2 linked regions of the Homo sapiens genome follow. The protein of the gene in region 2 purifies or fractionates together with the protein of the main gene of each other region. This does not show direct contact. Each region holds a gene or a part of one and is shown on either strand. Other genes may lie near its edges.

Region 1 (3,500 bases), on a different chromosome or scaffold from region 2:
GCTTTTTAAGATTCAGCTCAGCAATCCAAAAATAATTTATAATTCCAATTAGAGATCTTAAAGATAGGTCTCCAGAGGTTTTACTTCTTACCGAAAAATATTGTCAAAGGTAATTCCTTCTTAGATTCAGATCTTCTTGTGGATTCAGATACAAATGTCTATGGACATTACCATGTTGTCATGGTAATTATGAGCTTTGTACCTCTCAAAATGACTACAATCTGGAGTTAGAAAATTTTGTATACCTCATATATGTTATGAGAAATGAACTATTGTTACCACATGTTATGGCAGATCATTCAAAGCTATCTGTTGTATTATCACAGTTTAAAAAATATCCTGATACCACACATACTAAGTACATGTATACATAGATATTTACAACCATACATATACATATATTTATATATATACACACAGTGCACATACAATCACACTCATGCTTGTGGCATTTTAACTAGTATTTTTAAAACCTACCTACCTACTCAAATGGACATAAAATACACATACTTACAGAAACATACTTACTAGGTATATGCCATATACACAGAGACACATGCATAGAAAATGTGTTTGTACACAGAAAACATCAACATTTATCACATACTGGTATTAGGTCCCATTTCATATTTGAGAATTATGGCTACAGTCTATACTAAAAAGTCACAAAATTAATCTATGTGACCACTTTTTAAGTCTAAGTCGAGAAGGCTTACAGTTACATCACAGGAACTGGTTTCATTAATATACTTTAGAATAAAGTGAGTTTGTATTGGAACAAATAGGAAATTTGCTAATAAACAGACCCTACTGCTCGTCTATGTTATAAAACACGGCTAAAAGCAATATTCAGACGAGTAACCTTGGTAGATGTTTTTTAGAAATGCAATATACTTTTTCTAAATCAATACTATTTCAATAAGCTGTCCATAATTGAGTAAATGGTTATTCCAATTAGTCAATATGCATGCAATATTTAGCATGTGACAATAAAACTATATTTACCTATCAAATAAACATTTACAGTTTATTTTCCCAAATCCTAAAAACACTGATTTTTTAAATTATGCTAGACATGATAGAGCTACATCTATTGTGTTTACAATATCAGAGCAATCAGTTAAGAGAAAATTACACAAAAGATTAGAAATGGTATGGGAAACAGAAAATCATTAAGCTACATTCCCATCTTAAGGCCTGGTGTGCATGCTGCACGTCAAACTATGCACATACTAGAGTTTCAGACTTCATTCAACATTGGCATCTCCTTTTAGCAGAATACAAACCCTTTGGGAAATGAGATTCATACTAATAATATGACATAGTACTGCAGCAAATTAAAAATATTCTCCAATGTCACTGCTGAAATTCTAGAGTAGGCTGGGTTCTATGAGAAATAACTTAGGAGTAAAGAACAAAAATGTACCCACAAAGGTAGACAATTGGGGCAGTGCAACTGTGGGACTATAATCTAAAAGCAAGTGCCAAAGATGACAAATGCCATTGTTTATTACTGCCTAAGATCAGTGGAAGGAAAATTGGAAAAAAATCTCCAATTTTTTTTGACATGGTTTGTGCTGATCTAAGAACACACCAGTGGTTATTCACAATATTTTCCTTTAACAGAAGGAAAATTTTGAAATACAGCAAAACACAAAACCACATTTAGCACAAAGCCAAACCCTGAAGTATATAATCCGTTAGCTGCCTATTTTAGAGAATTCAAAGGAAGAAGCAAAGGGAATCCTAAAAACAAGAAGTTTTATAAAAAGATCTCACTGAAGATTATTTGTTTTACTATGGATGTTTGCTTAACAGTTTTCCATTTAGCTGAGACACTATTTTAAAAATGCAGTATGTATCTTGCACATTGGTTCCATTCACAAAGAGTTAACTTTTTTTCCCCCAGTTTGGGGTTTGGGGTGAGATACGAGAGGATTTAGGATTGTGATGTTTTTATACAATCACTGGTAACCTTAAAAGTTGAAATGACCTTTATGTAAATCTTGTATTTTCTGATTTTTACCAATTATAAATGGGTTAGCATAAGCCTTTAGAATAAGTTCAATACAATGGCACTCAACATGGCAAGTTCTCTGTTTAATAATGGTTAAAAGTTTTTACTTTATACTTTATGAGTATCTGCTCTGGGTGTAAACTACACAGGAAATTAAAGTTAAGTTAACATACAAATCATGTTTGCTACTTTCAAAGGGAGACATTTCAGTTGGTGAAACCTGATTTACTTCTGTAGAATATGAAATAGTGTCATGGGACACCCCTACTCAGTGAATACTTGCTCTGCTGTCTGGGAACAGTTAGCACACAAAATTCCAGTTGGCTTCTGGCTGTTTCCTACATGTGAATCATCTGGTCCTTGGTAGTCCAAAACTTAGCCTCAAGACTTAACTATTAACCCCCAGGCTAAACTGTTCTGGTAAATTTTAGAAATCTTAAGAAATTGCAAATTTGCTTTAGATTTCAACGTTTCAATACCCTTTTCTGGAGTGACCTGGATAGGGACTTTGAAATACTGCAACTGTAAAAGTGTGAGCTCTGCTCTTATCCCATGCCATTTCTACTGACTTCATTTCAGGAACCATTCTTTAAATGTGATTATCCCATAGCCTCAAGATTTATTAAGAAAGCCTAGAATGGATATACAGTTACACTGAGCCTGTTTCAAGGGTAGGATAAATTCTTACAAAACAAGATTACAAATTAGCACGTAAAGAGTGAATTTTTTTTCCAACCAAAATAATAATAGTAAAACTGGAGTTAGTATCAAAGTGTAGTTAGCTATGCCAAATAGAAAAGTAAACATTCTCCATGTCAGCCTTCAATATAACCTACCATGAGGTGAATATAAGTAAAGAAAGAAATTATATTTTTCCCAACACTTCTAGAGATGTGATATTTTGCTTCTTCCTTGAACTCTGAAACTAATTAGCCAAATTTATTGACTGATTAACAAAAAAAGAAGCTTTTATTCACTGTTGCATATGCTTCTAGCATGAAGCAAAACACATTGGAATGAGGAGAAGCTCTTTAGAGCAAACAGTGCAGACTTTTCCTTTGCAAACTACCTCGTGCTTCTGGAAAAGTTTATTCTTAAGGAGTCCTAATTTTAAAAAATCACTTCCTAGCAGTCTTATGAAATAAAAAGGAAGAAAAGAGGAGCTAAATAGGCAATTATGGAGTAGGTAGTAGCATTAATGGTAGACAACAGAATTACTGTCATCCTAAACAGAATGTGGGAAAAGAAATATGTATGGCTTAGGTCTAAGCCCACTATCTCATATCTGAAGAATTACGTTTAATGAGCTACCTGGTAGATAGCCTAGAAAACTTGTCCAAAGCAATTTCAAATATATGCCATGGTAGGCAAATGATCCCCAAAGTATAGGGCTGCTATACAAACCTACCTTGGTCAGTACAACATATAAAGCCTCTAAAAGGTTAGCAGTTTCTGAGTCAAACCCCAAAGGTTTGACATACCA
Region 2 (3,990 bases):
TCGAAGATGAAATGTAAATGATTTGTCTACCAAAGCTTGAATTATTTCTTCTGAACTAAAGACATCAACCTTTGAAGCAGTGCAGAAGCTGCAACAACTTGACACTACATAGTTTTAGATTATGTATATTTAATGCTGTCAACAATCAATGCAGAAGAGAAACAGATCTTCACTAAAGGTCTTTCAAAGATGAAAACAGAAGTATGCCTATGTACTCTCTTAATATATTCCCAGCATCTTTGGAAGCATAATTCTCTTGGCTCAAAAGTACTAGCAGAAAAGCTTTCCTGGACTACAAAAAGATACACTCTGCTTTCCCGACTGACAAACCTGGAGCTACTCACAAATGTCTTCTTAAGGGCAACACAGGTATATATACCAGGACTACAAATACTGCACTAAAGATTTTGCAATAGTTTTTTTTTTTTATCCTATTCTCATTCCACATATGAATTGAAAAGTATTTTCTAATCTTTAATCACTAAAATAGTTTTGATCTATTCTCTTATTGATGTTCCACTACACTTTTATATATGGTAACCTCATCTGAGAAATTTATTATCTTAACATATCTGGAGAAAAGGAAAATGGAGTACACCTTTACAGCAGTTTATGTCAAAGTGATAGTGAGACAACCATTAATATACGCAACTTCTGAATTAAAAAGGTTAAAAAGCTGCTCTTTTTTTAACCATAAGGCGAAGGAAAAAAATGTAAGGCTACCAGCCGTAACAAATTATTAGATTTTGAATTGCACTACAGTGGATGGCAAAATCGCAAACGTACAAAGTGCCCACCTCATAGTACAATCCTCAATTTGTTTAAGAAGTACCTTGCCCCTACCAACACAACCCAATGAGCGTATTCAGAAAGTAGATCCTAGGGGTAACTGTAAGGCAGAAGGATGACCCCTGAAGGTGCCTCCAAACATCTCCCCAATTCTAACTGGCAAAGAGACCACAGAGCAGAAATTACCGACGACACCACTAGCTTCACACTTAAGATCTATCTCTTGATTAGACTCTTGGAGGACACCTCTGGCCAAGACCGGAGGAGAAAGATGAGGTGGGGGATAAAAGCGGGAGAAGGTGACAGATAGGAGGAGAGCTGGGGAGGACCGAGCGGGTCAAGGGAGACTGCGGGGCTCCAGAAGCAGGAAGGGATGGGGGGAATACCAGGGGTTGAGAATGCCCCCGTAGCGGGACGGCGGCGCCCAGATGAGTGCCGCCGAGAAAAGGGGTGAGGGTACAGGCAAGATTGGGTGGTGCCCACAGTCCCCCCACCACCCCGCCTCACGCCCATCAGCCCCCAGACCCCGCGACGGGGCGGAGCCACTACGCCCGCCACAGCCCTTTCGCGCCGGCACCCGCCCCCTCAGCCTTCGGGTCCCGGGATGGTGGGAGGGGCGGCCCTCGTGGGGCTGGGTGTGTAGCCCGGCCCAAGCCCCAACCAGGAATGCTCTGCTGCGGGCGGGAGGATGAGCGGATGACCCTGCAGCCAGGGACGGGGGTTGGGGGGGGCGCTGGCTGAGGGCGGAGGAAGAGCCTCGGCACAGCCCCCAACGCCCTGGCCGAATCCCGGGCGCCCCTCTGCGGGCAGGCATTGTTGCCCCCGCTCTAGGCTTGCCTTCCCTCCTCTTCCCCCCTCCCCCCGCGTTGCCCCGGGCAACAGCGCCTACCGCCGGCGGCGCGAAACGCACCTACCTAGAACCTGACAAGCCCGAACCCCTCAGACTCCGGAGCCAGTCACCACCCCGCGTCACGGGGGCTGCCACAGCCAATAGGCGCCACTGTCACGAACCTCTGCAACCAATCCCGCTGCACTCCGGTCTCCGGGCACCCTCGAGGCCTCAGCCAATGGGCAAGAGCGGAAGGCGGGCGCAGCCGCCCGGCCCTCAGCCCCCTCCTCCACTACCTCCCAGGAGGCGGGGAGCGGCCGATTGGCCCGGTCCCCGAAGGGGCAGGACTTGGGCCCTAGGCTGGGTGGGCGCACGCTTAGCCCAAGCTGCGGGCCCTGGGAGTGGAGACGCGGAGCTGCGGTCGCCGCTTTCTGGGCTCGCTCACCAGCCCGGGTGGAGTCCCGAGGTCTGCGCGTTTGTGCCGCTCTCCCCGCCTCGGTAACCTGCTCCTCCCTAGCGGGTGTCCTGGGCTGCCGTGGTGAGATGGGGCCGGAGACGGACGAAGGCCTCACAGGAAACTTTGGGAGGCTCGCCTGGCCGCGGCCGGGAAGTGGCCGGACCGGCGATGATAAGCTGAGGCCGCCTGGAAGGGACTACTCGGCGGGTCGGCAGCCGGAAAGGAATTCGGAGAGTGGGGGCGGAGGCGTGATTAAAATGTTAAGTGTGCCCGGAGGGCGCTGGGCGATCCCTGGAGCTGAAATCTCCGGGAAGGGAAGCTGCTTTAGGGCCGCGAGGCCCCCACCCCTAAAATAGGCACTTTTCAGCCTCAGAATTGGTCACTTTTTCCTGTACGTTCCCACGTTTTACTTGTATCTGTTATTAACGTGGATTGCTTTAGAATGGTTTTCAGCAACTCCAGTTTACTCTGAGTCCCTTAAGGACGGGAACTGTCTTTCAATCCTGTACTCCCAGTGCCTGAGCCTGCCTAAAAATGTTAGAAACTCAATGCTGGAATTGTAATGGATGTTTAAAAGCATACAGCAGGTCCTGGGAGTGGCCCCCTATAATAAATTCTTACCTCTTCGGGAGTCTAGAATGCGTGGAGAACCCAAACGGGTCTGCTCTTCAGTGATGGCCGTTTCTGAAGCGTCCTTCACCAAAAGAATTTGGTGAAAAATGAGTAATGTGAACTACAAGATTATTACTAGGTGATCAGTAACAGTAGGATAGGTATGCGTCATTATTCGAGGGTGTGACCCTCCCATGTTCCTGTAGTAGACTTTTTAAGGCGGTGTTATCTTTTGCATTGGTTGAACCACATAGCGTCAATCCGGTATTTCCCCTCCCTCTCAAAAACTGAGTTACATAGGAGCCAAAGAAGAGTGGTGAATATTTTCTCTAAGCAGGGTTATTTATTTAACCGTAGAGAACAGCCCTACACATAAAAAAACATAAATCTTAAGTTGGACTTTTTTTAAGTCTACTGTTTTAAAGCTAAATAAACAAAAACCAACATAAAAATTTTAAATAAGAGGCTTAATTCTCCCTATTGAAAATGGAGGATGAGATTTCCCGTCCCTTTCTCTCCGAGCATTTGTCTTAGAAAACTTAAGTACTTTCTTAATTGTTAAGTACTTTCTCAACTCTTTGAAATGTGTATAAATCCACTTGAGGACTAGATAGGTCTTGTCAACTGTATGCTCAGTCAGGAATGTCTCTGGACCTTTTTTTTTTTTTTTTTTTTGAAATGCTGCACATATCAACGGAGTAGCATCCTTCCCTATCTCCCAGTTTCTGTGAGAGAGTAGGAGCGTAACTTCGGTGAGCAACTTGCTCCGTGTTGCAAAACTACCTTCCGTCATAAAGACAGGAGAAGTTTGTTTTTCCTCTGGATAAAACCAATTAACTAACACAGATGGTCACCCCAATTATTAAGTAAAGTTAATGTCACAAATGTCAGGTCCTCTTACTTGAGGACTAGTTATTGTTCAACTTGAAAACGTGTATGTAATGGGTCGTATATACTTGGCTATACAAAAGGGCAAGATTTCTGTCTTTGCAATCTCTTAGCAAATTGCCTGTGATGTGTATCACAGTCTCGTTTAATGCTTATTCAGTAATAAAAGTGTTTTGTCTACTAACGTTTGTGGAGAGGATTTCTGGGTTGGGAGATTTTGGTTTTTAATTATATTTTTCCAACAATGCCTATACCCAGAATGTTGGGATGACAAAGTTAAGGAAAGTAGTTACTTCGGAGTTTTTAAATTGTTCTCTAAAATGATGGTTAATGTTTCATATGTATTTCATAGTGATTGTTAAATGCACAAACTGTGGTTCTGTGAGTAAACTTCTTAAAATAGAAGTTAATTTTC

The links. Proteins that work in one complex are often made in the same cells at the same time.
Region 1: the proteins of FER (region 2) and DNM3 fractionate together in Homo sapiens (co-fractionation; one study listed by BioGRID). This does not show direct contact.

Annotation. Positions count from the first base shown.
Region 1 is NC_000001.11:172,407,998-172,411,497, reverse strand, and holds part of DNM3 (dynamin-3), read right to left. Parts: 3' UTR 1-3,500. UniProt on the Homo sapiens protein: Microtubule-associated force-producing protein involved in producing microtubule bundles and able to bind and hydrolyze GTP. Most probably involved in vesicular trafficking processes, in particular endocytosis.
Region 2 is NC_000005.10:108,746,707-108,750,696, reverse strand, and holds the start of FER (tyrosine-protein kinase Fer), read right to left. Parts: upstream 2,801-3,990; 5' UTR 2,697-2,800; intron 1,750-2,696; exon of another isoform or gene 1,704-1,749; intron 1-1,703. UniProt on the Homo sapiens protein: Tyrosine-protein kinase that acts downstream of cell surface receptors for growth factors and plays a role in the regulation of the actin cytoskeleton, microtubule assembly, lamellipodia formation, cell adhesion, cell migration and chemotaxis.